2 linked regions of the Homo sapiens genome follow. The protein of the gene in region 2 interacts with the protein of the main gene of each other region in a pairwise test. Each region holds a gene or a part of one and is shown on either strand. Other genes may lie near its edges.

Region 1 (3,772 bases), on a different chromosome or scaffold from region 2:
AAAACATTTGCCTTACCCCATGTCTGCTATCTTCCATCCTTTGCCATTAGTCTGACAACTATCTGAGAAGAGGGACTTTTTAAAAAATTCTTTCTCTTGGCTCCAGTTTAAGAGTTGACCCATACAGACTGGGCGCAGTGGCTTACGCCTATAATCCCAACACTTTGGGAGGCCGAGGCAGGTGGATCACCTAAAGTCGGGAGTTAGAGACCAGCTTGACCAATATGGAGAAACCCTGTCTCTACTAAAAATTCAGAATTAGCCGGACATGGTGGCGCATGACTGTAATCCCAGCTACTCGGGAGGCTGAGGCAGGAGAATGGCTTGAACCCGGGAGGCGGAGGCTGTGGTGAGCTGAGATCATGCCATTGCACTCCAGCCTGGGCAACAAGAGTGAAACTCCATCTCCAAAACAACAACAAGAAGAAAAAAACAAAACAAAAAACCACCACCAAAATGTTGAACCATAATGGAAAAAAGATTAACCAAATGATTTAAGGAAGAACCAATGTGATTAGAAACCCACGCCTATTGGTAGAGTGGCACTGTTACACCAAGCTCTGTTCTGGGAACACTACAGAAATGTAGAGCTCAGTGCTCTACAGGCACTGTGCTTACAGGCAAAACCTAAGCCTTAAGGTACTCCTCAGGATAGTACCTGATAGGGAACATGCAAAAGGCTGTAGCATCTCTCACATTAGACCTCAATGGCTGCAGCCAGAGCCCTCACCTAAGTTGGATCTCTCTACGGAGTATCTTGTGCAGACATGAGTTAAGGAAGCATCCTTTGGCATTTGGGGAGGAAAGAGCCTAGAAATTATTTTCCATTAGTTAGCGACTCTCAGTCAGAATCTGAAAGTACATAATAATAGCTAGCATGAGGAGGATTTTGGAAGATGGATGACACCTGATTTCATCCAGACATAAAGAAAAAATAAAATGCTATAAAGGGGAATTACAATAATGACAAAAGTCATTATTAGCAATATAAAAATGGCTACAAGGGGGATAGCAATGCCCTCTTTCACCTGTCCGTGGGACCCTAGTCATACATAATATACTATTGGTCTGGGCAGACTTGGCTGATCTGAGGTACCAATCTCATTTTCCTATGATCTTTCTGTGCCTATAAGTGATCTACCAAGAAACATCTTGCCTGGGATTTAGGCACCATCTCCCCGACTTGGGGCACCACATCTGCTGTAAGGACTCACCGACATAAGCAGACACTTGTTTTCCTTGATAGAGCCCATGCAGCCCAGGAAGGCAACTACCATGATAATAGAGCCCACGATGACAAACACATTGCCCAGCGTGAGGGAGGGGAGGTTATGGAAGAGCACTCCGAAGTTGTTGTGGATCAGCAGGTAGATCCCAAAGCCCAAAATGCAGCAGCCACAGATCTGAAAGGAAGAATCCCACAACATCCTGAAGCAAAATGTGGTTCTTGGGTATCTCCTCATATTCTCACTTCCTTGAGATCAGAATCACTTTATTTTTAACTGGCTCAATCAAGAGTCTCATGAACAATTTCTTTACCAAACTTTTCCATGCTTACATTGGAGAGGCAATCTCAGCTTTCTCATGTGGAGACCTACTCACAACTCTTCCTACCCATCTCCAGATACCAAGGAAAGATCACTTCTGTGAGCCACACAGTATCTTCACCATATATAGGTCTAACTTCTTTTTCCTTATCTTTTCAGTCGCTCACACATGGCTTTCTCTGTAGAAACCATGACCATGTAGAGAAGATGCCCTGCTTGAGGAAGCTCATCTTGCTAGGCAGAAAACTAGAGAAGCCAAACTTATAATAATCTTCTCATATACACAAGTACCAACCCATCCTATATCTGAAATTCAATTGCTGAATTTTATACAGTGAAACCTCCCTGGAAAGGGTGACTTTCCTTTCAATCACTTATTGTTTCAAGGAATCTAGAAAAAAAGACAAGAAAAACAGAGGCACTCAATATCCAGAGCACAGTCTCAGGTTTCTCACCTATATATGTTAGCTACGAGTAGTAGTAAACTAAAGCCCTCAGAGAGAAACAGCACCTCCATTAATAACTGCACTGGTACCTTTCAATTTTGCAGGTTTATTCTGTGGCAGGAAGAGGGGAAAAATTATTACTCTTTTGTTTCTAGGATGGTTGTGCTGGACATGACCCAAACACGCATGCATTTTACCCCACACCAGCCTCTTCAGTAGAGGAATGAGGAGAGCTTAGCTGGGTAAAGGTGAGCTAAACCGTGCTCAGAAGAGATACACTTACCCAAAAGAGCAAGTTGAAGAAAAACAGGACATACTTCAGCAGTTTCAAGCTACTCATGCCCATGCCGTGATATTCTTGCCCTAAGGAATAAGGAAGAAGAAAGTAAGTTACCTCACTCTGTAAGGTAGCCAGAGATCAGAGTGCACAAATGTTCAGGGATCTCTAGCATTACCTTGGGTTTGAGCTGTGGCTCTCCTCTGGAAAGTTTCCCCAAACTCTGCGCTTTCCTAGTTCTAAACTGAAATACCAACTGGCTCATCTTAGACATTCAGTTTTTGCCCAATTCGGCAAGCCAACAATGCTTAACATTGAATTAAGTATTGTAGAAGAAAATAGAGCCATTCTTAGAAGAGGATGAGTCACAGTGACAGAGACCAGGCCAGTGCTTTAGCTCTAACTGCAGCATTAGCAACTAGTGCCTGGGCACTTAAGCCCTTGAAGTCAGGGATGGACTGGTCAATCAGCCATCAAGAAAGCCAACAGCTTGATCAGCCAGTTTCTTAAATACTCTGTGATTTATGTACATGCTACATTTGATCAGTAAACTTCTCCACATGAAAGTAGGGGGAACATATCCACGCCTCATTTATTCTTTTATTGCAGAAACATTTATGTTTTCTGTTCTAGATGTTGTGGAAGATGCAACCATGACTAAGCAGTAGCTATCCTCCAGAAGACAACAGTCTTACAGCAAAGATAAAACAAGCCAACAAATATGCAATGGGGAAGTAAAAAGAGATAGCAATGTAAGCTTTATTTTTTTCAACTAGAATATCATTTTCTTAGTGAGGACATCAATGTCCAATGTCTGGTTCTCAATTCTAGAAATCCAGATACAGAATTTTGACTTTTCCTTTTCGCTTTCCTTTCCTTTCTCTTTCTCTTTCTCTCTTTCTTTCTTTCTTCTTTCAGGGTCTCAATCTGTCACCCAGGCTGGAGTGCAGTGGCACAATCTCAATTCACTGCAACCTTCACCTCCCAGGCTCAAGTGATCCTCCCACCTCAGCCTCCCAGGTAGCTGAGACTAAAGGCATGCACCATCATGCCCGGATAATTTTTGTATTTTTAGTAGAAACGAAGTTTCACCATGTTGCCTAGTCTGGCCTCAAACTTCTGACCTCAGGTGATCCGCCTGCCTCGGCCTCCCAAAGTGCTGGGATTACAGGCATGAGCTACCGCACCTGGCCAGAATTTTGAATTTTCTGTCAGAGGTAATGATATTCTATAAAGTGACTCATTTTTAAAACCGTGCACAGGACTGATATATCAAGCAGAATGTTGGGGCAGTGATTTTTTTCCATTAAAATTATGCCTTTTCCAGTGCATGGGTCACTTGTGCAATCCATAGTATCTCCTTTGCAGTTTCAAGGTACCTGGGAATCACATGGTCTTGAGGGAATAGTTCATCCAGGCTGTAGATAAGCCTGATGAGCTACTTCTCTTCCACAATAAAGTGAATTTCTCTGTTGTAAACACCAAATACTTGTATCTATCTC
Region 2 (3,600 bases):
ACTCCTAGTTTTGCTGAGTCCTTTAAGACGGCTCAGTTGAAAAAGTAATAGTGCCAGGGCTTAAACCCTCATCTCTAACACCAAAGCCTAAGCTCTTCCTGTTAACAGTACATAAAATTCAAACCCAAACCACAAAATTGCTGGGGAAAAAAAAAAAAACTAAAACTTCTTTAACCCACCAACTACACAGAGGATGATCTTCCGAAGTTCTCTTCCTTACAACTCATCACATCTTTTGAATGGTATTTTAATAACTAGCATTCTATTTATTTTCTATTCTTGGTCCATTGTACCACCTTACGAGAAGTTAAGAGTAATCTAAAATTTAAGGTAGGTCTCTAAACTATCAACAAAACACTATTAATGTACCTAAAATGAAAACTTGCGAATTCCAGGGCTAAATGATTCAAACAAATGTTAATAGAAAAGGAGGGCACCAATCTGACCATTAGCCAATTTAAAAATTTACGCATTACTTGTTATACATAATCAGGGCAACTTTAAGACGCCATTCCAGGCAGATTTGGGGTAGTAGGCGGCTGGCTTTTAGCTAACTCTGCTTAGCTGCGGGGTAAATGTCAAAGGTCAGCCCCATGGCGAATCTCCCTAAGCCCCCTGTCGCAACCGAAGCCGATGGAATCAACAAGACAAAGATGCTCCTGACCCACTGGCTAGAATCGTGAAGAAAACGCTAATCCATGTCAAATGCACATAAGGAAATTTTTCCATGCAGAGACCAGACAGGGGAAAAGGGGAAGGGAGAAGGAGAAAATACAGGGTTCGACCCGGGCCATCGGAAGACAACCAAGCGCTGACTTGGGGGTAAGCCCTGGACTAGGGGCCTGTAGACCAGGTTCGAGCGCTCACACTCGCTAACTGCGGAGCCTTGGCCAGCCTCAGTCTCCGAGTCTACAAAACAAGGATAATCATAAAGGGCTCCCACCCGCCTCACCGAGGGCTGTGAGGCTCTTCCGAGACAGAGGACATGGAGCCATTTCGTAAACCGGAGCGCACGGTACAGACAAGAAACTGTTATCCGGCCCAGCAGCTGCGAGACCCCCGAGCGGAATGCAAGTGGACCCCAGGCAAAGAGGACAGCAGGGGACGGAGCAGATCTGGCCAAGTTGTCCCGTCCCCGCCCAGAATCAGCCCCGCGGCCCCACAGAACCGCCTGCGTGTCACTTCCCCCCCACCCAACCCCGCCAGGGCCAGCCTCCGCTCCGACCTCCCCGCCTTCCGTCCCAGCCCCTCGAGCCCCAACTCCCCTCCCCGACGCGACCCTCAGACTCACGGCCTGAGGGGCTCCTCCGGCAAAACAGCGGCTGGCTCGGACCCTCCCTCAGAGCACACTAACCAGCAGCACCCGGGACCGCCAGCTACTCGCCGGATGTACGTCACACCCCTCCCCGGGACTTCCGGGCGCGTAATGGGCCCCGCCCCCTCACAGCGTTACGCCTCTCTGCCCCGGTGCCGTCCCACCAGCGACTCGGGCCGCGGAGGGGCGGGCATAAGGCGTGACAAAGCGCGCTCGGGGTCTGGCCCCGCCTCGGCCCCGCCTGCTCCCGTCTGGCTAGCTGACCGCGCGAGACGTGGCAGCGCCGGAACCCTGGGTCCGGGGCTGGGTCCTGGAGTCCCTGAGCGGCCTGGTACACTCGGGATCGCGGCTTCCCATTCCAGACGCACCAGGAAAGTCAGAAGTGGGTACCGACGGTGACATAGGTCCTGGGAAAGATGAGTTGACCTTGGGGCCCTCCACTTGAGGTGGATCCCTCCAAGCTTTTGCTTTTTTTCTTCCTTGCTTTTTTTTTTTTTTTTTTTTTTTTTGAGGCGGAGTCTCACTTTGTCGCCCAGGCTGGAGTGCAGTGGCGCGATCTCGGCTCACTGCAACCTCCACCTCCCGGATTCAAGCGATTCTCATACCTCGGCCTCCCGAGTAGCTGGAACTACAGGCGCATGTCACCACACCTGGCTAATTTTTTTGTATTTTTACAGAGACAGGTTTCACCGTGTTGGCCAGGCTGGTCTCGAACTTCTGACCTCAAGTGATCCGCTGGCCTCGGCCTTCCAAAATGCTGGGATGAGAGGCGTGAGCCACCGCGCCCAGCTGCTTTTGCTTTGAGTCGCACTTCCTTGCCCTGGGGTGGCCTATGTTTTAGAAAAACAGAAAAACAGCTAATATTTATTGTGCACTTATGTTCCAGGCAGAGCACTGGGTACTTTGCACGCTTTGTCTAATTTCACCGTCATTGGAGTCCTGTGACTCCAGATGCTAGTATTATCCTTATTGACAAATGAGAGAGCAATGTTCAGAATAACCTACCATGCCCAAGTTCACACAGCTAAGTGGCAAAGCAACGTGTTCACCCCAGTATATTTCGCATGCATTTTCTCATTTAATTCTCAGGACAGTCCCACGAGATTGGTACTATTATTACTCTCATTTTACAAATAAAACAGTCTAATGGAAAGATGAATGACGTCTGTGGGTTCATGAAGATCTCAATTCTCCTTTAGTAAAATTTAAATTTAACATAATCCCAATAAAAGTACTAATAGGATTAATAGGTCGTGTGTGGTTTCGTTCTTTTTTTTTAATTACCCTATTTGTTCCTAAAATTCGTATAGAAAACCAAACAAAACTAGTCCAGAAACAGGCTTTCAAAATGAAGAACAAGGAGGTGGGAACTAACCCTGTTGGATATTAAAACATATTATAGAGCCTAAGTTATTAAAACTGGTGTGCGTGCACATGCACAAACACACACACACAAAAAACACAATGGAACAGAGCAAAGTACAGAAATGACTAAAGTACATGCAGAAATAAAACTAAAGTAGCACCTGGGACTCCAGCAATACTCAGGGAGCTGAGTGGGCAAGCTCACCACCCTCTACCCTCCGCTCATCCTGGGGTCTTAGATGTTGAATTTGAACCCTGTCCTGTCACAGAAAGGTGTCAGGCCACTTCTGAGGCTTCTCACCAGCTTTAGCTAAACCAGGGACAATGTGTCCATGGGGCTTGGAACCCCTTGTGCATCCTGGAGACACAGATGCAAGCCCAGTGCAAGCCAACACATTGGATTACTGGCTTTGTTGAGAGCCTGGCTGCACGAGGTGGAGGTGTCTGAACCACAGGATGGCTTGGGAGGCTGGGGAAGGAGGGAACATGCAGGCAGATTCTCAGAAAAGCCGCAAACTCTACTTACCTAAAGGCTTGAGCAAGTTGACGAATGCCCCAGACCACCATGTACCCACTGTAAAATGGGTGAAACAGGCATTGTTGTGCACATAGTTTTTCCAGAGTACTGTTTTCAATAAATGATTCTGTTATGTGTTGTTAAATAAATTAATAAATAATAAAAGGGGTTGAGACAATTGGGTAGTCAAAAAAACCTACAGGTTGAATCTCCAAAAGTTTATTACTCTAAACAAGTTTCAAGTGATGAAAAGATGTGTGTATTTTGAAATGACACTATAAAGGTACTAGAAAAACAGAAGAAAGCATGGATTCCTTATAATTTTGCAATGAGAAGACCTTTCTGGGTATGATTGAAAATCTAGACCGGGCGTGGTGACTCATGCCTGTAATCCCAGCGCTTT

Evidence for each region. Proteins that work in one complex are often made in the same cells at the same time.
Region 1: the proteins of SAR1A (region 2) and CD53 interact in binary tests that used the Homo sapiens proteins (3 or more experiments, as listed by UniProt).

What each region holds. Positions count from the first base shown.
Region 1 is NC_000001.11:110,889,976-110,893,747, reverse strand, and holds part of CD53 (leukocyte surface antigen CD53), read right to left. Parts: intron 2,357-3,772; 5' UTR 2,340-2,356; coding exon 2,277-2,339; intron 1,404-2,276; coding exon 1,215-1,403; intron 1-1,214. UniProt on the Homo sapiens protein: Structural component of specialized membrane microdomains known as tetraspanin-enriched microdomains (TERMs), which act as platforms for receptor clustering and signaling.
Region 2 is NC_000010.11:70,169,122-70,172,721, forward strand, and holds the start of SAR1A (small COPII coat GTPase SAR1A), read right to left. Parts: upstream 1,394-3,600; 5' UTR 1,292-1,393; intron 1-1,291. UniProt on the Homo sapiens protein: Small GTPase that cycles between an active GTP-bound and an inactive GDP-bound state and mainly functions in vesicle-mediated endoplasmic reticulum (ER) to Golgi transport.